2 separate regions of the Homo sapiens genome follow, and region 1 is linked to region 2. Evidence: fine-mapped expression QTL. A gene starts in region 2. The other region holds a variant in brackets. All regions are shown on one strand. Distances are from middle to middle.

What was found.
Region 1: its variant is fine-mapped to the expression of CREB5 in whole blood (TOPMed, PIP above 0.99).

What each region holds. Positions count from the first base shown.
Region 1 is chr7:28,679,674-28,691,873 of GRCh38, forward strand. The region is part of intron 5 of CREB5 (cAMP responsive element binding protein 5); the gene reads left to right. Among named protein-coding and RNA genes, the nearest start is that of TRIL, 270 kb to the right of the region's middle. RefSeq lists enhancers at 5,480-5,529, 5,746-6,254 and a silencer at 5,638-5,807. The variant G/A (reference allele first, on the strand shown) is at 5,053.
Region 2 is chr7:28,407,117-28,419,316 of GRCh38, forward strand. It overlaps CREB5 (cAMP responsive element binding protein 5), which reads left to right and starts at 5,402. Exons shown (of 11, transcript NM_182898.4): 1 at 5,402-5,801. The coding sequence starts at 5,799. RefSeq lists silencers at 1,794-2,088, 2,057-2,126 and an enhancer at 5,399-5,488.

The DNA.
Region 1 (12,200 bases), 270 kb after region 2:
TCCCACATTGCCTCTCCTGATTCCAGGGCCGGTAACAGTGCTTGCTTCTGGACACATGGATTAACCCAGGTCATGAGGAACACCTGGATTATAAAAGGTGTTAGTGTATCAGTACAAAACAGCGAATGGTCGCATTCCCAACTTTGGTATCAGACAACTTTTAGTTCAGCTCTCAGCTCACAGTGGCTAATTGAGAAGAAGGAAAGGCTGATGAAAGCTGACACTAAGGAAGAGTCTAGTCTGTTGCAGGCATCATTCTCCATCTCCCCAAAGAGCCAGGCAGGCCCAGAGCTTCACCTGATATTTTTCTACTAACCCTACCCATGCTCATGAGTACACAGAGTAGAAAATTATCTCCAAACGAGGCTGGGACTAAGGGGCACAAATGAGCCCCCTATGGCTCAACATTTAAGGGGGCAATTATTCTCAGGGTTGGACAATTGCAGACCTGCACCTGAGAGTGAGTACCTCCTTAAATTTTGCACCCTAGGCACCTCACTTGCTTCAACCTGGACTGGTCCAGTCACCACCCTTGGTCAAAGGGGAAAGTAGGAATTTGGTTGATAATCTCCTTTAACCAAGGTTCCCCACAGAGCCTCCAGGAAAGGCCTCTTTCTTGGACATCATCAGTTGGGTTGTCCACCTCTCCCAAGCATAACTGCTCTGAGCCAGTCTTGATCAGCTACTATGCCTTGTCTTGGCTCCACTCAACACCAGAACATGAATCAGTGTAGTTAGTCTGACAACATCATTAGGCTCCAATCCCGTATAAACTTTTACCCACAAAAGTTTGGACCTCCTTGGCCGAGCACTATGGCTCACACCTGTAATCCCAGCACTTTGGAAGGCCAAGCTGGGAAGATCACTTGGGTCCAAGAGTTCAAGACCAGCCCAGGCAACATAGGGAGACTTTGTCTCTACAAAATGTAAACAAAATTAGCCAAGCATGGTGGTGCACACCTGTAGTTCCAGCTACTCAGAAGGCCGAGGTGGGGGAATCATTTGAGCCCAGGAGGTCAAGGCTACAGTGAACTGAAATCATGCCACTGCACTCCAGCCTAGGCAACAGAACAAGACACTGTATCAACCTATCTCAAAAAAAAAAAAAAAAAATTGGACCTCCTGTTCCCCCACCATTATTTGAGTTCTTCCTGTAGTGCCCACTCTAGTCATAGAGATTGGTTAGAACTGACATCACCTTTCTTTGGACATGATAAAGTCCTGGTGGCAGTGTCTCCTTTTTTAGGGCACCTCAACAACTGTGCAAGAAGTCCCAACAGGAGAATATTTAGCTGCTCTCACCTCAAGTTCCAATTTCCCTGGGTGCCTCATGTAGGAAGCTGGTGACAATAGTCTAGGATCAGCTGCTCTGACATCCACCACAGAGTGCTCATTCTGCCATCCCTGCTGTGGGGGTCCAAAAAAAGGGAGCAAGAGGAATCTGAGGCCCTCCAGGGAGAAAAGGTATAGTGTAGGGATGGAGAAGGCTGACTAGTAGATTTCCTAGGATTTTCTTATTATAGGTTTTCTAGATGCTTCAGATCTTTAGGAAGCTGCATAAAAAGTGTGAGCAATAATACAAACAGGAAAAAGAACTTTCAGGAGGCAACATATTCAGGGAAGACCGAGCAGCCTGTGTTGCCGCTAGTTCAGGCTCAGTTACATTTCTTTTTCTTTAATTAATTTATTACTATTATTATCATTATCATTATTAGAGACAGAATCTTGCTCTGTCTCCCAGCCTGGAGTGCAGTGGTGCGATCATGCCTCACTGTAGTCTTGAACTCCTGGGCTCAAGTGATCCTCCACCTCAGCCCCAGTAGCAGGACTATAGATGTATGCCACCACGCCCAGTCCCAGTCACATTTCTTAGGGACCTACTATGTATGGGCCAGGTGCTAGGTGCTAGGGAAATGAAGATGTATAGCACAGTCTCTGCCCTGGAGAAGCAAATGGCTGCTGAAGAAGACAAGCATGAAGAGATCCTCTCCATAGCTGGCTTATTGCTGGGATACAATCTGCTTCAGGACGCCAAAGGAGCACAGAGTAATGGCCACCCTTATCCCAGTCTGGTAGCCCAGCAAGGAGACCATGGAAAAGATAATGCCTGAGCTGAGGATTGTATTCATTCATTCACTCATTCATTTATTCAACAAATATTCCAGGAGTGTCAACGGTCTTTCAGACATTGGTTTAGGTTTAAGTGGTACAATGACTTGCACATTTTAAGAAGTTAGAGAAAAAACACTATAGGAAGCAGAATTGATGACAATATTTTAGGGCTAATCAAATGGCTCTTGTGACCTCTTAATATCCACCCCCAAAGGTTTCCTGATGCCTCCACCATTATAAATTCATTCCTTTGTTTGAGACACATTCAGCATTGCCACATCCGTGAATTACAAATAGGTTTTGACACAGGAAAGGCCAGTGAATTGCCTAAGGGTACTTAGTGCCAGGGTTGGGGTATAGGAGGTGCAGTAGTTACACGACAGGAGTCACCAAGGGCAGATCACTCCCTTGTCTTCTCTCTGGGAGCACCTGGAGCTGACTTCAGCAGGGCTGACAATTTAAGCCAGTGAATCCTGCCTGCACATGGTTCAGGATGCATGCTGCACCAGGTCACCTAGGCGGCCCCTCATCCTCTGTCCACTGTGAAAACACGGGACACCCAGGTCGAAGGGAATGCTGAATGACACCATGTGGGTGTGCAGTGGTCTGTGACCAGAGGGTTCACTGGAAGCAATTTGCAAAGGAGGACTTAGAAAACCACCTGGATGGTTATTGTAAATTAAAAAAGGAAGAGATGCCACTTTTTTCTGAATAATTTTTAATACTAGGTTTATGGCTGGGTACATGTGATAGTCATTACAGCTTATTTAACTCTGAAATTATCTGGCCCCTCAAACTCCACCGGGACTGTAGAAATCTTGGGTTAAATTTTAAAAACAACATTTGAAAGAAGATGATATACTTTTCCTTGAGGAGAATAAATTCAAACCTAAAAGTGGGGGGGGGGGGAAACCCCAGCTCTCTCTAGGAAGGATCTCCATTGTTTCTCATATTTGCTATGTTTCTCATAACGTGTTTGAGCTCAGAAATTCACCCAGGCACACAAAAGGTCTACTCTAGTTGGCTGTTGAGCCCCTCCATCCCTGCAATCCAAGTTGTGCCTTTTCTATTGGGTTATTTGGAAAGAGTCCAAAAGCATTCTGAACTCTGAGCTCAAATCTCAAAGGTTTCCACTTCTTCGGAGCCGAACATTTCATCAGGGGCTGGGAGTGTGTGAGTGAGTTACACCGAACAGCTGCGCGGTACCCACCACCCTCTCCCCAAGGATGACACGCTCTGCAAAGGAGGGTGTTGTAAGCATTCCTGAGCAAGCCAGCTAATCTGGAGACCTAGCCTGTTGGCCGGGGGCTACTTCTAAGAAGCCTCCCTCTGGAATTACAGCATCTTATGACTTCTATCTACGAAGCCCCCCTTCTTCAGAGGAGCAGCTAGGACATGGGGTAGGGGAGAAGGCCAAATGGGTGAAAAAGGAATCTCTTGAGTCAGAGGGGCATTTCTTTTTGGGAACAGGATCTTGTCTCTCTTTAGCTGCTCACAGGAAGGAAAATGGGAAAGTAGGGCTTCTTTTCAAGTGGGGAGGCACCCAGCAGCCAGTGGAATGCCTGATTTGGAAGGGGCAGGAGGGAATAGTTATGTCCCGAACAACAAGTGCAAATGTAAATATGCAGACCTTTGAACTCTGAAATTGATTTCAATTCAGGCCAGCACTCCAAAGTTGTTTTATTGGGATGTCGAAGTGTTCTGGCACGTTGGTGGCTTAACGGCGTCATCATCAGACCCAGACATTTCTGGGTCCTTGGCATTTGTCTGGGTTTTAGAAACACTGTACCCATTGGCGATGTCACTCCCTGATCAGAGGCACACTGGCCACCTTCAAACCTCTTGTTCTCTTACTCCTCCTGGCAGAAGCAATGATGCTGGCGGGTCTCATCTGAGATCCGTGCCCGGCATTGGCTGAAGCTATCATCTCCTTTGTTACTTCCCAAGCAAGGCACAGGAAAGCCATCTTTACATCACCTCTATTTAAAGCACAGGGTCCCTTTTGCCTATGTCACTGAAAAACAGCAGAAGCCTGGTATCTAGTGGATTCACCCCGGCCCTCTAATGTGGTATAAGGAAAATCCTACAGAGAACATTTTCCCATTGAGCTTACAAAAAGATGTAAATTTGGAAAACTCTACCACATATCCATTTTGCACCAAAAATAGTAACATAAATAAAACATTTAAATAAGAAAACTAAAGTGGGGAGGGGAGATTTGGGGGGTAGGGAAGGGAAAGTGAAAGTCCATAGCTTGATATTAACCAAGATGGTCAATGGCTCATTTAAAAAGGAAAAAGTAGCTTATGCAAAATCTTGCCAACCTGCCTTGAAGTGTAAAGGCTTGTAGAAGTTATTGAAAATTTTGTTTTATTTATTCCCCTTAGCAGAAGAAAAATCAATGTCTGCTTGGCAAGTCAGACGTAAATGAGTTATACAGGCCACTGACATGGTGGACCAAACTTTATAACAACCACATTTGCCGCTGTCAGGCCACAGGCTTCAGTGGCGCCAGCTGTAATTATGGCTGATCACCTCTAATTCAGAGCTGCCTGCCTTGATAAAGGTGTCACTCGGAGCTACTGTGGCATCAGCATCAATTGAGGATGTCAAGCCAAAGGGCAGCTTGCTGGAGAAAGCACTTCCCCACCCCAACCCCCAGGGTCCTGGAGACCCTTGGGCAAATATTGCTTTTTAACTCTTCACCCTGAGTACGGCAACACTCCCTGAAGCTGTGATTTAAATTCCAGGGGATTCAGATGAATATCCCTGACCTCCATCAGTGGACGTCTTTAATAAGCTGAGAGATTTCTCCAAAAACACAGTTTAGAAGTCAAGATCCTCTGTGCTTTGCAACGTGCAGAGACAATGTTTGTCTTATCTACCTGATTCATTGGCCACAAAAGGCATTAGGGGCAATAGACTGTAGCACAAGCCATG[G/A]TCATTTTTGGAAAAGGAAAAAAAAATTGCAGCTTCATGCCTTTCTTCTGCTTTTGTGGTATTTAAAAAAAATTCTAGCGAACTTCCCATTTTCATGTTACTTTTTTCTTTTTGAAGGAAACATGAAGTGTGGGGAGAAATAGCAAAACGGAGAGATGATGGGGTTAAAAAGCCCTGCTAATAGAGTAGTGTCTGGACTGTTGTCATTGTCGTGGTGGAGCCCTGAGTGGGGAGGTGTGAAGTGAGGGGTAGAATTCAGCCATTAAAAAGGCTTCACTGTCATTTGTGAAGGATCATGCTTGACTGCCCCCACCTCCCCAGGCTGTTTTTCCTCACTCTGTAATTAAAAAAGAGACACACATACTGTCTGTTCTCCTCTTTAAAGTCACAGACGGCCCCACCCACACCAGCACCCCCTCCAGCGAGTTGAGTTGTGGGGGCACAGCCTGTCTTTCATTTTAAGGGAGAACTTGTCTTCCTTCCCTCTCCTTTGGAAGGTTCACCTGAGGGTGGAGTGCTAATCTCAGAAAGGCAAGTTTTGTGTTTTGTGGCTGGGGTCTTTTTCCTTTAGCACCTGACAGGGTGACCCATAGGGGCCAAGGGAGAAGTGACTGTGATTTCACAGCCCTTGGTGGCTCCAGACACGGGCACGTGTTTGGACCAGAAGTGGTTTTGCCCTCGCTGACAGGGAGGTCAGATGCGAGAAGTCTCCGGAGGGCTGGTGGTTGGCATTCAGCAACAGAAAATCCCATCCAGCTCCAGGAAAAAAGGGCCCTGGGCGATGGAAACCCTGTCACCTGGTTCTGAACCAAAGCCCAAGCTGCTAACTGAGGTTAGTTTTTCACACTCAGACCTTCCAACCTGCCATCTTTCACTCCCTGCTTCCCCATCTCTACACGTGTCTTGATGTTATTTCCCTTTCTCCAAACACAGGGCACTCTTTTTTTTTTTTTTTTTTAACCAGTATTTTTTTTTTGTTTCCAGCAGAACCAGCTGACCCCTGCCTGCAGAACTCCGGGTCCCTCTTGGAGCTCTCTGATGGCAGCTGTAGGGCCATCCCCAGCGGCACTGTTTCCCCCTTTGTTTACCCGTTTCTAAGGGCAAGTGCACCACGAAGGCTCTCCGAGCCTGGAACTCAGCCTGGGGCTGTTTTGGTTACATTGAAGTTTTTGCTTCAGTTCTGCCAGATTTAAGTGGTGACTTCACTAGCACTGAGCTAAAAAGGAGAAGGGGGAGGAGGGCGAGACCAGGAGAAAGAGAGCAAGTGAGCGAGAGCCCAGCCGGAGGGAGAGCCAGAGCTAGGCGCAAAAGAAGGGCCAGCACATTACATCATCGCTTGGCCTGGAATCAAATGGGAAGGATATGACTCACTCAAGCTAGTTAAGCTTTGGCTCAAATTCTACACACACTCATTCCAGAGCTCTCATGTTCTGCACCTCAGGAGGGAATTCAGCCTCAGTGATGTCCATGAGGTTTGTTTTTAATTTTATTTTCTTTTCTCCTGATTTTATAGATTTTTTTTGCCCCTACTGCCTTCTGTTTTTGAGCCTTCGTCCTCCTCCTCCTCCTCTTCATTTTCTCCCCCTTCTCCCTTTCTGCCCGTCTTTGTTTCTCCTCTTCTTCCTTCTCCTCTTTCCCCAGCCCCTCCGCTCCTCTTCTTGCCCGAAGAGGCATTTCTTTTCACTTCGATCAGAGTTTTTGTTCTAGCACAGAGACCTGAATGAGTTGAACAGAGGCCGGGTTGGAGGAAAAAAGAAAAAAAAAAAAAAGCAGAGCAAACCAAAGCAACCAGAGCAAAAGGGCCACAAATAAAGAGCGAAGCGAGAAAGAGCAAACTCGGGCGAAGTTTCTTTGCTGCGGTGTCGCTCCTAATCGGAGGAGACAGGGAGAGAGTTAAAATGCAGGAACCAATCGCTTGAATGGTGATGTAATGCAAGAACCGAAGGGTAGTTAAGTAATGTGAGAGCGAGGGGGTCAGGGTTGCAAAGCATTTACCTGCTCTCAAGGGGTTTTCAGTTTATTATCAATTGCAGTGACTGTAACCGGCTTCAGACTGCAATCTCTAATTATTCACAGACGCTCCTTTTTTATCTTTTATTATTAAAAGTAAAACTATATTATGGTATTTTAAAATAACACGATATTATCACAGCTGTGTATTATTTTCTGCCAGGATTCTCTCTCTCTGTTTTTTAAATGGCTTAAAACTGTTGTCTTTTCATAAAAGGTGGAAGTGATGGTGTGGTGGTTGGTTGGGGGGTTGGGGGGGCGATTTTTGAGTGTAACTGGTGAATTGTAAATGACTGGAAAACTGTGTGTTGTATGAAAAGTGAATGATTGTGCTGTTCCATTTATTATTAAGAATATACTGCAGCTTTTAAAAGTAATAGATGATGATCCTCAAAAGTAGTTATAGCCTTTCCCCTATTATTTCAGTGAAGGTTAACAGCAATTGTGCATTTGCTTGAGCATGTTGACATTCTGTTGTTCCACGTGCTAATTAATCCGGTGCTATCTTTAAGACTTTTATGTTCTTGAATTAATTTTTTAGATGATATGCTTCAGTAGTGAGGGGGCGATGATGAAGACTTCTTGATTGAGTTGTCTTAGAAACAGTTAATATTTCAGAGTAAGAAATTAACAGGAAATACAGGGAGAGGGGGCAAAGGATTGTGTTCTTAATGTTTTAAGGATCTCGTGTACTCAGAGAGAGAGACTTTGATGTTTTGAAAATTATTACCACATTTCTGTTTCATAGAATAGATTTCGTATTGTGATATGCTGCCTGAGTTGGGTGCTTTCTGACACCATCCGGCATTACTAGATAGTAATAAACTGAAACCCACTAAAACAAGAGGGCAAACACTTTCTCATTCTGGGAACTTCAAAACTTCTCTTGGGCTTATTTAGACGTGATCATCCTACAGCTGGATGCATATTGAGGCATGCGGCACATACCAGAAAGGTGTCTATTTATTTAACGCATGTTTTGGATATCATTCATTATGACTTTATGGATCTTCTCTCTTTCCTCCTTTTTTGGGCAGAGGTGGAAGTGGGGAGCAGAGGGGAGAAGTAATTTTTGGAGGAAGTAGCATGATGTGTGAGGAGGCCTGAGTGTTGATTCTGATGCTTGACCTTGAGCAAATCACTTAAACCATCTGGGCACTACTCTAAAGAGCAGGAAAGGGCAAGGTGGGCTAGAAGCTCCTCCCCGCATGGGGAACCAATCTTAGATGATCTCTGGAGTCTCTTTCCACTCGAAAGTTCTATGTTTATATCCATGTTCTATACAAAAGTTTGCTACAGAGTATTTAGCATAGCTTTTCAGAGAAAAGTACATTTGAAATTCAGGATGAATTAGTACTTGAAATGAATGGGGGAGGATGGACAGGAGTATATCTTTCCCCACTTTGAAGTTTGATCTTTATTTGTTTACTTCTTGCTTTTTGGCAAAAAAACAAACATGGTAAACTTTTTAGTTTTCAAATGCTACCTTTGAGGAGACCTCAATGAGATAAATTACCTAGGTGAGACTGCCAAAAAGAGTGGCAGAGTAGACAAGGGGGAGAATTCACCTGCCCAGAAACTTTTCTAAAAGATCCCGCACATCCTTCAGATTCATGAAATGGTGCCAAAAATGCAGCAGACACAGACCCTTGTGCTTCAGTTGCTCACATGGAGCAGAACAGTATTTTCAATGAATTTATTCCCCCAAAGATTGCATGACTACTTGATAAGTTTCTGTATTTTTAACATAAACTCAAGTTTTTAAAGGAGATTTAAGGCTACATTTGAAAACCTTCAAAGATCATGAAAAGCAAAACCGTATGTGCTTGTTAGATAATTTTCCAGACAATACTCCTATTCTTCAGGCAAATTCCAGGGTAGTAGCCTTATTATAAAGTATATATTTATGTATCCGGGGTAGTAGCCTTATTGTAAAGTATGTAGTTATGTACTTATGGCCCAGCTCAATTGCGCACAGGGAAGGACCTTAACTATGCCTATCTGTGGGAAGAAATTACCCAGAGCTAAAATGAAACCAGTGGTGAAGATTATTAGTCATTGTGCATAGTTTGATGAGTGCCAAGTGTATGCTTGGGACTCTTCAGGAATAAAGAGGGCATGATTTCTTTTTTTAGAGCATTACAATTTATGTCGACTTGGCTCCGAATTGTTCACTCATATTCAGTAATGCTCTGCTTGTGACTGACAGAGACAAGGCCAGGAGCACTAGCCTGGCTGTGGCCTCTCCATGCCGGCTGTGATACCAGGTTGCACTTACATGATCTCAGCTCATTACACTTACCCACGGTAACCCAGAGGGCTAAAAATTATTAATTCCACTGTTTGACGACTATTTTGTTCTGTTTCATGGTTTTTGTTTTGATTTTTGGTTTTTAATTAAAAATTTTTATTCAGATAAGTATACATTTACATGCATTCATAAGAAATAATATGGAGAGGGCCGAGCGCAGTGGCTCACGCCTGTAATCCCAGCACTTTGGGAGGCCGAGGTGGGTGGGTCAGGAGATCGAGACCATCCTGGCTAAAATGGTGAAACCCCGTCTCTACTAAAAATACAAAAAATTAGCCAGGAGTGATGGCGGACACCTGTAGCCCCAGCTACTCAGGAGGCTGAGGCAGGAGAATGGTGTGAACCTGGGAGGCGGAGCTTGCAGTAAGCCGAGATCGAGCCACTGTACTCCAGCCTGGGCGACAAAGCGAGACTCTGTCTTAATAATAATAATAATAATATGGAGAGATTCCCATGTATTCTTTGCCCAGTTACCCTCAATGGTAACATCTTGCAAAACTGTTGTAGTACATTACTACAATCAAAATATGGACACTGTTACAATCCATTGATCCTGTTCTGCGTTCCTGTATGAACAAGCACATACAGTTTTGCCTTTCATGATTTCTGAAGGTTTTCAAATGCAGCCTTAAATCTCCTTTAAAAACTCAAGTTTATGTTAAAATTATAGAAACTTATCAAGTAGTCATGCAATCTTTGGGGGAATAAATTTATTAAAAATACTGTTCTGCTCCTTGCGAGCAACTGAAGCACAAAAGCCTGTGTCTGCTGCATTTTTGACACCATTTCATGAATCTGAAGGATGTGCAGGATCTCTTAGAAAAGTTTATGGGCTGTGAATTCTCCCATTTTACTTGTATTTGGTGTGTGTGTGTGTGTGTGTGTGTGTGTGTGTGTGTGTTGTTTTTGTCAATGTAAAAACTGAGAGTCAGGCTTACCCAAGTACATATAAGTTCTGGCAATTGGAGTCCAGTTCACTCTAGGTCTAGCTCACCATCACCAACAAACTTTCCATCACCATCCTGACTTGGTAAGGGAAGGGGTCTAATGCCCTTGCCTGTCAGTGGAAGTCATCAAATACCCAGTTGGGGAGTCTTGGTGACAGTGACTGTGTTTTACCTTCCCTTGGACATGGCCTGTCCATGGGCTTTGCCTTCCACAGGGGTCCCTGGGGCTGTGCTCCACAGGTGAGCAGGTGGAGGAGGAGAGATGGCTTTGCTAAGCAACAGAAGAGGCATCAATCTCTTCCCTCTGCCCACCAGACACAGAGCAGAACAGTGCCAGCTGTCCATGCCTAAGCATCACCATAGTCGATGCTGAACTCACATTCTTCCTCCTCGCCCTCACATGTTTCCCTTGGTGAGCCCTTTTACAGCAGGAAGGATGGGGATAATATCAAGCAGGCATTGCCAGTCAGAGAAGCAGGGTGGGGTCTCCTGAAAAGAGCATGGCCTTTGGGGTTATAAAGTCCTGGATTCAATCACTCTTCTACTTACTGGCTGTGTGACTTTGACAAGCCACTTCACCTCACTGTGCCACAGTTCCTACCTTCTCTGTGAATTGTGGATAACCAGACTGACCTCGAGGAGCCATTGCGAGGGGTGGAGATAAGGTTTTAAGGCCCCTGGCACATAGTGGGATGGTGGGGAGGAAATCTTGGTGGTTTCTGTTGTTGAGGATTCTGTTGGATAGGATTCTCCTCGCAGCAGTCCCTGCTGCAGGTACGGCCTCCCTGACTCTAACTGGGCTTCTTGTCCCAGCATCACTTAGCCTTCTTCTTTCTCTAGCCTTTCTTCTGTTATGCCTTTTTTTTAAATTCAGGAAATCAAGCAGGTTTGAGATCACACAAGGTCCTAGAAACAGAGAAGTAAAAAGACCATTCTGACTAAAGTGAGGTGAGGATACTAGCGATTAAAATGCCAAATTTCCCATGATCTGGGTGGAGGGAAGGACACAGGACATCACAGTTTGGAAGAAAGGATGCTTACTGCCCTGTGGCACTGTGAACAAGAAAATAAAGTGAGATGGAGGTGAGTGAATTCAGTTATGAGAACTGAATTCTATTCCTAGCTTGAATAAAAGAAGTTTGTAGGCCAGGCGTGGTGACTTGTGCCTGTAATCCCAGCACTTTGGGAGGCCAAGGCAGATGGATCACCTGAGGTCAGGAGTTCAAGAGCAGCCTGGCCAACATGGTGAAACCCTGTCTCTACTAAAACTACAAAACTTAGCCGGGTGTGGTGGCGGGTGCCTGTAATCTCAGCTACTCGGGAAGCTGAGGCTAGAGAATTGCTTGAACCCAGGAGGCAGAGGTTGCATTGAGTAGAGATTGTGCCATTGCACTCCAGCCTGGGTGACAGAGCAAGACTCTGTCTCCAAAAAAAAAAAAAAAAAAAAAGTTTGTATTTGCAATAGCATATGTGTGTTATTCTTATCTTTAGTTGGGTGAAGTTACCATTTAAACTTGCTGCCTCCCTCTCACATATATTTTCTAGTGGTTAAAAAAGGATGTTTTGTAGACTGGAGAGAAAGGGACTTCCAAGGAGGCAAGTGGAAGGGTTAGGATGGCGGGTAGTGGAATTAGACAACATCTCTGGGGTCCAAGAGGCACCTTGAGAGTTCCATGCTGGGATCCCCGAATCTAAGCTGCAAAAGGGCATATGGTGTCTCAAGCTGCTTGAAAGAAGTATTGTCTCAGATTTTACTTAGTAAGCATTGGTCAGGAAGGCCAGGTCAACATTAAGAAGCAGAAATTAGTGTAGACTGAGAATGAGCCCTGTCATGTGCCTGACAGAAAATAGGCTGGGCCAATCTGGAACTCTACTTAAAA
Region 2 (12,200 bases):
TCAGCTCACTGCAACCTCCGCCTCCCAGATTCAAGCGATTCTCCTGCCTCAGCCTCTCGAGTAGCTGAGATTACAGGCACCCACCACCACACCCAGCTAATTTTTGTATTTTCAGTAGAGACGGGCGTTTCACCATGTTGGTCAGGCTGGTCTCGAACTCCTGACCTCAGGTGATCCACCTGCCTCGGCCTCCCAAAGTGCTGGGATTACAGGTGTGAACCACCGTGCCCGGCCCCAAGCACAATTCTTAACTCAAGTAATAAAATTCTTAACTCGAGTCGCTGTAGTTATCATCACCATCCTCATTCATAGTTGAGGCAACTGAGAACCAGGCGTCAAGTAGCAGAGCTAAAATTTGAATTCAGGCAGGCTGACACTAGAATCTACACTAATAAATACCTCTTCTTTTCTTCAGTTTACATTTAGAAATGATTTGTGTGTGTGTGTGAGATCTGGAATATGTAAAAATCTCAGTCTGTAATATGACAGCTAGAAACCTTTTGCATGAAATTGCAATGATTTTATTTCTACAATAAGTAGAAAACTCAGTGATGAACTCTGAATAAGGCTGTGAGGATCAAACAGTCATCAGTCCCTGTGGTTTCAAGGAACACTAAAGGGCAAGGGGCCACTTAAACACTTAAAAACAGAAACAACATGCTAAGCTCTTCCATTTAGTATGTCAAAACCAGCTCAGAAGTATGTGACAATCCAGGCAATGTATTACAGTTTCTAGCCAGTCCAGTCATGATTCTCTGGCAAACTGCACCGTCATGGTTGTGATGCATTGGGATGAGAGGTACTATATAAATGTCAGATGTTACATAAATGTCAGAAATGATTATTGTTTATTAACGAGGGCTAAACTGTTTCTAAGCAAAGCTCCATCTCCCAGCCAATGTGTTCTTAGCAGAGGTTCCAACCACCAATAACCCACAAGAAGGGAATGCTTACCCCTGGCTCTATGAAGGAGCCCAGTTGGGATCTGGGCTTGAAAACAGGGATTGAGTTGGGCCCAGTGCCACCCCTTGCTCATCAAGTGATCTCAGGCCAGCCCCCAACCTTCTGGTGTCTGCCTTAGCTCACCTGTAGAATGGGAATAATTATAATACCTGTCCTACTTCTGGTACCCGGGTTGGTGTGAGAAACAAGGGAAATCACGTGGTCGCAAGCGCTTTGTAAGGTGTGAGGGGCTGCGAGGTTGGCATTGGTCGTCTAGAATCGGGCTGGATTTAGCCTATGCCTTCTCTTTGAATCCTACTCAAAGGGAGAACTTCTGAAAGGAAATTCAGCAGGGGGATGGTGACAGTGATGGTGACGGCCGGATACTGGAGACGCCAGGCTCCTCTCGCTGCAGACCAGGCGCCCGGATCCTGCAGTCTGGCCCTGGCTCTGCCGCTCCCCAGCCCGTGAGCTTGGGCCAGTTACCGAAGAGGCTCTGGAAGTGACAGCCAAGGGCCCTTTCGGCTCTGACGCCGTGTCTAAATCAGGCTCATCACTTGGCTCTAGCTGTGATTCACCTTTCGCCTTAGGAGCAACTCTCCCTACAGCTTCTCAGACGCATGAAGCAGGGGTCCCGCGAAGGGTGGGGCTGTGTATTTCATGAGAGTGTGCACCATAAGGAAGTTATTCTCCTGGAGGAGGTGAGATGAGGGGGCGGTGAAGAAGGGGTGACAAGTGAGTGCTCTGAAAAGCCAGGATGCAGGGAGCACTGAAATGAGGTCATGACTGTCGCAAGCAAAAAGGAGCTGGACATCCTCCGGTGGGGGAGGGAGGAGCGTCCTGCATTTCTGTTTGCAAAGTCTTTTCCCACATCCTTCAGCATCCCCCTCCCCACCTCTCCCCTACCCCCATCCCTACACCTTTCAAACCCCATCAGGCCCTCCCCGCAGAAGAGCCCACGCCCGCGCCTCCTCCGTGGTCTTGTCTGAAACCATAAGGATTGTTTCCAAGCTGACTCACACCACTAATGTCAGGGAGCCGTGTCACACGGCGCTGGGCTCTGCAAGCTGTTGCTTGCGCAGTCGCCCCCGCCGCTGCCGCTCCCGGGCGGGTGCACCAGGGTCCGCGCGGGCGGGGCGGGGTCGGGGCGGGACCGGGGCGGGGCCTGCCCCCTCGACGCGCCGGCCCCGCCCCTCGCTCCGTCCCTCCCCAGCGGACCGCAATGATTTAGAAGTTCAGGAATCCCACGTGACGTCACCGGGGGGGTGATGTAATGCACTCTAAATAGAATGTATTGTAATCTTTGCTCAGTCCAACGTGGTCCCTTCACCCGGGCTCCGCTCTTGCCTTCTCCACACTTGTTTGGTAAGTTCCTAAAAATACGGCTCGGCCACTTCTGGGGCTTTTGCATTTAGCCACTTTTGTTGCACTTGCCGCAGGAGCCATCTCGGGAGTGTACTTGTTTGCAGGGGTTGGTTCTCGGCAGCAGCCGCGAGGTTACTTGGTCCAGTGGGCAGGTCACAGGGCAAGGAGTAGGGAAGATGCGATGCATTTTTTTCTGGAGGGTGATCTGTGTTTGTAAACATTTTGGCGGACCAGAGGGAAGTCCGGCCCCGAGTGCTGGTAGACTGTGGAATTCGGCTGTGTCCTGAGGCCACCCTAGAGACCCCGCGCCGCGTGAGTGCCGGAGCGCTCGGTGGCCGCCGCGCCGCGCGCCTGGAGGGATGCTAACGTGGAGCCGGCGCCGAGTCCGCCCGGCGTGCGTGCGTGTGTGGGAGCGCGCGAGTCCCCTGACGCGGGGACCAGTTATGAATCGGGGGTGTGTGTTTGCCTCCAGAGACCTGGCAAGGTGCGGAGCCCTCCAGAAGTGCGGTCAAGCGGCAGCGGAGACGGCGAGCCAGGAACCTCCCCCCGCGTCCCCAGCTTCCCAGCGTGGCGGCGGAACCCCCGGAGAAAGTTTGCAAACTTCCAGCGGGCGCGGCGAGGACGCCGGGTCACCTAGGGGGCGGGTGGGCGCGCGCGCAGGGGGCTCGCTCTCCCCGGTGCGGAGCTGCAGCTGCCACCTCTCCCGCCGGGCTGCCGGCTGCAGCGGGTGGGCGCGCGCCCGGGGAGGGGAGGTCGCCCTCGGAGGGCGCTTGGCTTTCGCTCCAGGCGCTCCGGGCTGGAGAGCGGCGAGGCTCCGTCCGCTCCAGTCCACTCCTCCGGCCGCCTCCTGCCTCCGCTGCTTTCTTGCTGGCATCGTTACCTCTTCCCGGCCGCTGCCCCAAATGACAGCTCCGGCTCGAGCTTTGGCGGCGCCCAGGCAATTCCCAAGACCTGGCGGCGGAGTCTCCCCCTGCGGCAGATTCTCGGCAGAATCACTTGAACTTTTCACGAAGTTCTTAGAGGGGCAAGATGCGAAGGAAGGAACCAAGGAGATGTTTTCTCTCAGCAGCTGCATCCCGCTTCTTCTTTGCCATAGATTTATTTTTAAGGGGCGTCTGGTAGATAAAGCCCTAGACCTTGTCCACACTCTCACCCCCATCCCCAACTTTCCCTGGACCGGTGCCGCCCCCACTTGATGCTTGCTCAAGGCCGGGGACTGGAGCGGGCTACTTGTATATTTCGTTGTCAGTCTGCAGAATGTGTTTGATTTTTATTTTTCCCTCCTTCTCTGACATGTGTCAAGGAATAAAGACTGGATACAGGTCCATTACGTCATTCTGCAGGCCAGTAAGTGTTTGATTAACGGCTTGAGCTCCTCAAGGGTTCAGGAGCTTAGAATGCTGACAAAGCAACTCTGCTTTGCATCCCCCTACCCTCCCCACAACACACTCGTGCAATCGCCGGCTCCCTGGGCATCTTTATTGCCCTCTCTTCCCAGCCCCTCCCTCTCCACCACTCCCCCGTCTACACCGTTATCACTCTAGCCCCGCCCCCGCCTTTTTACAGCTTTCCCTGGGGCGAGCACGGTCCCTGGAGTGTGGGTAAAAGCTTCTGGGGTCTGAGGGGACCACTGTACCTGATCAGCGCGCAATCCGCCCTTTTGTATTATTTAAGAAAGGCACCAGTAAGCCTTCTCCTCTAGGGCGAAAATGCTTAGTCCTGATAGAAAAGGCAAATCAGGAAATGTTTGCAAGCGTTATGATAATACTCTGTCCTCGTGGTGGTGACTTAGGAAAGCAATACACCCACTGCAAACAAAGTATTTCACTTTACGTAGTGCCTGCCCTTTAGCAGAAGAGGGATGCTGACAAAATCAGGTTTAGCTGAAAGGATCAAGACTAAACGTTTCATTTCCAAAGTGAGGGAATGTGAGTCGTTGAACCTAAACTTCCATACAATAAATTGCTGCGTGCGTTAGTTTCTAGCTCTTAACCTTAAGTTTCTATGTTGAAAGAGGAAGTCGAATACGTAAGTCATTGAACTGAGTCAGAACCTCCGTATCTGGCAGTTGAAATAAAGACCCTGTGTATGACTTGTTGCAAGGGATCAAAGTAAAAAGAACCCTCGGTGTGGGGGGTGGGGGGGTGGGGGCGTGAGGGAGGTGTGCAGCAGAAATTAAATTTAAAAAAGTATTAACAGAGTTTTGGATAGAGGGAGAGAGGGGATTGGAGTGGTCCCTGATTTGGAGTTGGTGAAAACTAAATAAAGAAAAGTTTATATTGCAAATATGTGGGAATTTCTTGAAGAACACATGTTTTCTTATAATTAGATCTACTTTCTTCAAAGCGAAAGCCATGCTGTAGGGTAGGCATTTGTGAAACTCCTGTCTGGGGTCTAATTGACATCCTTCCCCAAGTCTGTGGCAGGATTTAGTATTTATTCACATCTAGAGATGAAATAGTGTAACCTCCACACAATATATGTGCATCGAAAATGTTGAACTTCTTGTTTGTGATGCATAGACTTAAAGGAAAAAAAATGGCCCAGTCATGGGCACTGGAAAGTGTGATTAATGATCAGTGATTTAGTGATCAGTGATTAGTGGTTTTATTCAAACTGTTACCTCTGACCAGAAGCACACATCAGAGGATTAACAGGCTCTTTAGATAAATGCTCATTAGTGGAAGGGGAAAAGCAAAGATAATAGGCATGCACCCAGGGACAACTTTCGAAGAAAATCATTCCCGTCTTCAGAATAATAAGCTCTATTAACAGAAAGCCCTTTTAATTTAAAACTTGCTTTTATCTTGTAAATCAAAGTTAGATGTAAAAGTTTGTAGTGCCATTATAACCTAAATTTTCCCATATCCACTAGATGTGGATTATCTCAGTAGCGATATTTTTTTTTATTTAAACAAACAATTGGACCTTTAGAGCAGCTGAACCCTGACAAGTTCTTAACTCCCAGGGTTTGAAAGTGTCCCCCCTTCTAGCATGGAGATTGCAGCTTGCTAACTAGATGGCGCACTGTTATTTGGTGTTCTCTGCTGCGTAGCGCAGGAGTATAAACTGAGCATGTAGCTGCTTGCGAGGTGTTCTTCAACATTTACAACAAAGTTGATTCTGTGTAGGGTTGGAGGCTAGACAGTTCCACAAATTTTTAGTCACATTTTCCATGTCAGTTAAATCTAGGGAGTTCAAGACTACTGGAAAAATTAGTCTCATTACTAAAAGAAACTTAGAGAACGAGGGAGGTACCAGAGTCTAGGAGGTACCTCTGGGTTGCAGAAGTAATTGTAAAATACCAGACCTGTTCTTTTTACTAAAAGCTAGTTTCACTATCTTCTGGTCTGAAATACTGAGGCAAATACTCAAGACTTATTTTCTTCCTAATCTTGCTGGTGAAACAGAAGTTACTAGAAAGAAAGGAAGAAAAAACTTGATTTGGTGACTGCAGGAAGCAACACGTTGCTGCTTTTATTCTACAGATAATGGTAAGGATGATGTTTATTATGCATATTAAACAGAGAGAAAACTTTGCACTTAGTTAAATAGAACCAATGTTGTATTTTCATAGATGGAATTCAGAAATGGAGTTTAGATTTTGCACAAAATTTTAATGTTGCTTTTGTCAGTTTCCTGGGACTTATAGCATTTTATGTGGAAGGATGTGTGTGTGTGTGTGTGTGTGTGTGTGTGTGTGAATAAGACTATTATTTCCCAGGTAAAATATGTTCAGAAGCATATGAACTACAGTGGGGAAGCTATGGAGCATGTTAAGTAATGTGTCAAGCATGAATTCCCCTTTCTGTGAGGTTTCATGAATCACTTCAATAAGTATTTAAGTTTTAATAAGAAAGTTCTTGAAAAAGAAACCTAAAAATTAAAAAAAAACAATAAAACAGTTTTCCGCATTCAAACCTAGATGTGTATGCCCCTGAAGGATGATTCTATGGGTTGAATATCAACTATTACTTTAGTTCTAAAACTTAAAAGAAGAAGTATAATAAAACTCACTTGTGTCTCCCCAGAAATGTTTCTCATTTTCCTTTGCTTATAGCATTTTATATGGATCTCTTATTTTTAAATCCTTACTGATTATAGTGGTTTTTATTTTTCAACTTAACTCATAGTAAACATATTTGAAAATATCTCCAAGCCCACTATTTTTAATGTAAATTGCTGGTGCCGATAAATTGCCTGTCAATTAGCGGTCAGTCGTGACCTTATATAGTTGATACCTGAGAAGATAGTTTATTAGAACATTCCAACAAAAAATTGGAAACCATGCCCTTATTTCTAGATCTCTGTTATGTCACAGCTTTTATTTGAATAGGTGGCTAAATGAATGGTAGTTTGTCACAGAGACTTTTCCTGCATAGATTTTCAATTCTAGTAAGTTTAAGATTTTTGTTACAATGATTTGTCAGTTTCCCACACCTGCACATTCAAAACCAATCAATCATGGAGTTTCCATGATGGCAAGTTCCTAGACTCCCAATTTCTTACTATAATCTACTTTTTAGCAATGAGGTATCACAATCCTATAATATTTTCTTGTCATTGGAGTTTACTTCTTACTAAGCTAAAAATTATTTTGTCGGTGTGTAGTGTTCACTAGATCACTAAGATGTGAACTTTGTATTTGTAGTTCATTTTCTTCTGGTTATGTTGTTGGATTAAAATTGGGATTTGAGTGGACTTATTATTTTTGTCATCTTTTCTTTCTTCTCCTTCTCCTTCTCCTTCTTCTTCTTCTAAGCAATGCAGTTAGTCACAAAATTAATGTGATCCTGGCTGGTGTTTCCCATCTATATGCTTCTTTTGCTTCTTACAAATTGGATTTCTACAGCAATTTAAGGTCTTTTTTTTTTTTAGAGGCAGCTTTCTTGGATGAAGATGGAACAGTGATCTCAGTCAATTCATTATCTTGTCCACTTTGACTACCAGCTGTATTATGGGAATCAACCAATGCTTAATTAGTGTTTAAAAATTTAAATCTATGACTATTTCTCTGAATTCTATTTAAGAAAATTATACAATTGAGATAAGGTAATAAACTGGGGGGCAATTGCCTTAAATATCTAAGTGTGAGGAAGAAGCACTTTCAGATATGCTAAACAGACTTAAAGACACAGAAGACCCTTTTTGTGTTGCTATTTGTAAAATAAGTAAGCTATCTATTTTGTGGCAATGCTTTAAATACAAAGTCTGGCACTTTAAAAATGACATCATGTTTAATGTTTTCACTAAAGAATTATTACATTTCGTAATTAGGAAAAAAATGAGCAATTAGTGTTTTTTGAGTATCCATTAGTATTCCATTGTTGAGAATCACAAATCATAGATTTAACATAGGAATTTTTTTTTTTATAAAAAGAGAGAAGCCTTTTAGAAATTTCCAGATAGTGATAGCACTCTTCCAGAAACCCCACTAAAATTTTTGAAGCTCTTATTGAGGACTCTGGGACTGTCACAGTAAAAGATAAAGTTTAGGATAAATTCTTGAACCCATAAAAGATATTATATTGACATTTCAATATTTCTTTTTTCCAAGTTCACTGTATTGCCTTCCCCCTCACCCCCTGAGAAATAGATCAGAATCAGTTTATCACTTTAAAAATATGTATTTCAGCTGCTTTCTTCTATTTCCTTAAGGTTACATTTCTGATCTTAACCCTAAAAAGATTTTAGGATTTCAATCCTTAACAAGGATTGAAAACTACCAGGCTGGCGTTTGACTAGAACTGATTTTAGAGGGAGTTCTTTTAGGCCTAGAGATTCTGATGGTGAGTTACAAAGGCTTATGGCTTTACACGGATGGTAGGGCTAGGGGAGGGCCTCGGATTGATAGACCAATTTTTCATTTTACAGAAGAGACCCCTGGCTCACCCAAGGCCCAGAGCTAGAGAGAGCCAAACCAGGCTGAGAAGCCTGGTCCCTGCCTCCAGGTCGGGTGCTCCTGCCATAAATGCCCTTGTCAGGAATGGGGCATAACCTATGACTTTGTATCCTTCACTCTTTTCAAGCCTTTTGATGACTAATCTTTCAAAGACAAATTTTTATCAGATCTTTGGAATGAACACCTTAATCATAAAAACTGTAGTTTCTATTTCATTCATTCTTATATAATATCTGCAATGTTATTTTTTCTAATAAGGGCCTCCTTAATTAATTTTAACTTAAATTCTCCTTTTTTCATCATTGTTATGAGACATACCCTGTAAAACCACACCATCCAGATTTCATTTGAGAGTAAAAACCAGGCAGGACTAAAAATGGTCTGAAAGACTGTCTCAAGAACAAGGCAGTGACTTTCTCTACTACCTGTCTTTTCTCTATTATCTGTGAGGACGGGATCTGAAATATTATTTAAAGTTAAAATAAATAACCTTTTTTGTCAAATAGAGAAACGGGTGATGTTTTCACTCTAGAAGGTGTACCTTTGCCTAGGATCTGTCTGTAATACATTATCTTTCCAGATGGATATATATGAGTGTGTTTGGAGGTGACGAGAAGTGAATTGAGTCTGGAAGTATGTTCTTTGAGGTTTGACTGGCAAAACTTGACCAATCATAACCAAAAAAATTCATGCATGCAACACAGAGGGCTCTAGAGCACCACACATTTGATTTAAGATGATATTTAGTCTGTGCTGTATTTAAGATGGGGAATAACAATGTCTAAATAGAAATCCTGAATGCACCTACTGCATGTGTTGTTTGGCCTCACCCACAGGTTTCCTCTCCAGCTGTTTGCATGCGATTTTATATCAGAATTCAGGTCTCTTTTTATTCTTTTATTACACTGAGGAGCTCCTGTGTTGCAGGCATGATTTCTCCAATAGAACACATTTCAGCCAGTTTTATGCAGTCCTCTCTCTGTTGGCTTCCTAAGGGGGAAAAATACATGCAACAACAACAACAACAAAATTTTTGTTTTTGTTTGAATTAGCTGACTATTAGAAGAAATACATGTAATCTCTATTTGCCAGATCTGGTAGGACCATTTCACTTTATCAAAACAAGATCTTCTCCTTTAAGTAAGTTGGCTTCTGACTGGCCAGGTATTAATTCATGCATCAGACAGTAGAAGGCATTGGGATAAAGTCCGTTTCCACCAGGGTATCTAGCTATGGTGTGGTGCACCATCATGAAGGGTCTGATTTGCCTCACTGCAATGACAACATTGTGCAGAAAAACACTGACTCCTAGGAGGAGAAACAATATTATAGGCTCAAGCTTCTAAAATCATATCAGGGAATGATCCTGTGTCGAAGGTGACTGTCAGAACGCTGGGGGCCTCCAGGGTCATTTTCTAAACTACAGCATGACAAAATGTTCTCTTTGTCTATTCTCTGCATTTTCCTTCAGGTAGTGTTTCCCTAGATTCATTCTTTAACATCCATTTCAACTACTCTGCCTTGATGAATAATCCTGCAGTAACAAGTCACAAATGTGTACACAGCAGAGCAGAGATATTTTTCCATAAGGAAAATAGATTTTTATATCAAATCTTAGAAGAAACAATTAGCAAAACAAAAGGGGGGAAGAAGAGTTGAAATTAGATTGATGGCATAACAAGCTCTGTCCATTCGTGGCTCTGCAACAATGAGCAGCCTGAGACTGGAGGAGGGACGCAATTCCCAGAGAGCTGCCTTGAGCTTATTGTGCTTCTCTGCCTCAGTTTCTTCATTTGTGATGAGAATGTCGGGCTCACCCAGCACTGTCCGGTAGTGAGAGCTGCAAATGTGAGCTGCACATTTCATTTTAAACGTTTTAGTAGCCACATTAAAAAGGTTAAAAAGAAACAGGTGAAGTCATTTTAATAACACTTTGATTTAACCTGATATATCCAAAATATTATCATTTAAACATATAATCCATATAAAAATGTTAATGTACTACTTTACATTCTCTCTTTCTCTCTCTTTTTTTTTTTTTGGTACTAAATCTTTGAAATCCAGTGTGTATTTCACAACTACAACATATCTCAATTTGGACTAGCCACATTTCAAGTGCTCAATATCCACGTGTGGTCGGTGACTATGGTATCAGACAACACAGGGTAAATCAGTGGTTTATGATCCTGGCAGCCCAGTAGTACCACCTGTGGAACTTATTAAAAAACACTGATACCCTTCCACTCTGACATTCTGATTTAATTGGTTTGGGGTGAAGGCCTGAGCCTCTGTATATTTTAAAAGCTCCACAAGTGTTTCCAATGTGTAGCAGAGGTTGAGAACCACGGTTCTAACTGATCTCTAAGGAATCTTCTACTCTAATATTCTATGATTCTATTTCAGGAAAGGGATTGCAGTAAAGCGTTCATTCAGAGTTCAAGGGCAGCAAGCAGTTGTTACAAGCATGCTGCACCCTGCAACACATATTTAAGAAAATATAACTGATAAAGATTAAAATTTACAGAATGAATAACTTAGACAATAATTCTTTGCACCACAAATGGGCTCTGTTTTGTGTAACTTTCAAACGTGGGTGTTTTAAATGGTCTGCTTCACTAGAAATCTTAATTTAGGATTTGATTTACATGTAACCTCGTAGAAACCCTCTGTTTCGGAAAAGGTCAGGATTCTCACATTTCAGTTACAGTATTTTGCCAGCTTACTCTTTTGCCCCAGATACTTGCCTTTAGTTGTTTGGGGAGGGAAATTTTTACTCCAGTTGAGACATCTGGATCCCCCAGAATTTTCTTCCTTCCAAGCTTTTAACAAACTTGTGTTATTGCCTAGACCAGATTTTCTCATGTCAAGATGTTAGTTATAACCTCCTAGACTTAAGGTATTCATTTTTATTTGTCACCTTTTAAAATATTAGAAGAATCAATGTTTTTCAATGCACATCAGAATGCTTTATTTTAATATACCTGTTTTTTATAATACACCAGTCTGTGCATTCACTAAAGGATGCAAAAAGTATAAAATAAAAAATAATTTCCAAACTCCTCACGCACCTTCTTGTGAAGTCTACAGACAGAATTGTTTGTGGAGGGGAGGAGAGACCTTGGTGTCAGCCTCTTGTGACTTCATGCTGCAGAGAGCCTCTGCATCCCCAAATTCATGAGTCATTTCACTCTGACCCTCTCTCTCCTTATCCCCTGCAGAGCCATCTATGTCCAAATACATGTCTATTCAACCATATCGCCTTTAAAGCATGACTATAAACTAGTTTTAAATATAAAATTACATGTTTTTCTACATTTTGTGGTGATATTTGTGTTTTCTGTAATGTCATTCATTGGAAGAATGTTAGCTTTCATTTATTAACACATATCTCTAATCCCCATTTTATAGATGGGAAAACTAAGAGATTGCCAAGGCTAGGCATCCTGCTCATTGATTAGATGGGTGGTCGGTATGAGAAAAGAGCTCACATTTATTAGTGCCATGTATTCCAGATATTCCAGATAGAAGCACTGCTTTGGGTTGCTTCCAGGTAGGGATTTTCCAATTGCTTGTACTATTGCGCTTGTCTTTGTATTTATAAATAACATTCTTTCGGGTGCTTTCCCATGCATTATTTGCAGTTAAATGGTTTCCTTGCTAATACCTCTTACTTTCCAGCTTCAGGCTACATGTAGCTGGATTGATTAGTAAATACATAAGGATATATTAACTTCTTAACATGGAATCTGTTTTAAAAGTTGCATGGAGACATCTGTTGCAAACCTGTGTGTTTGGTAGTATCCAGGGAAACTTTCTCTCAGGCTACTTTGTGATTGACTGTTAAAAGTATTGTGTGGAGAGACAATGAGATTAATGATGTAAGTTACTCATCTGTTTTGGGGATTGAAGGCAAAGGTCTGTACAGATTCATTTGTTGAGCAAGATAGACTCTAGCCCTACCTCCTAAATTATCTTTTATAAAACACTTTAG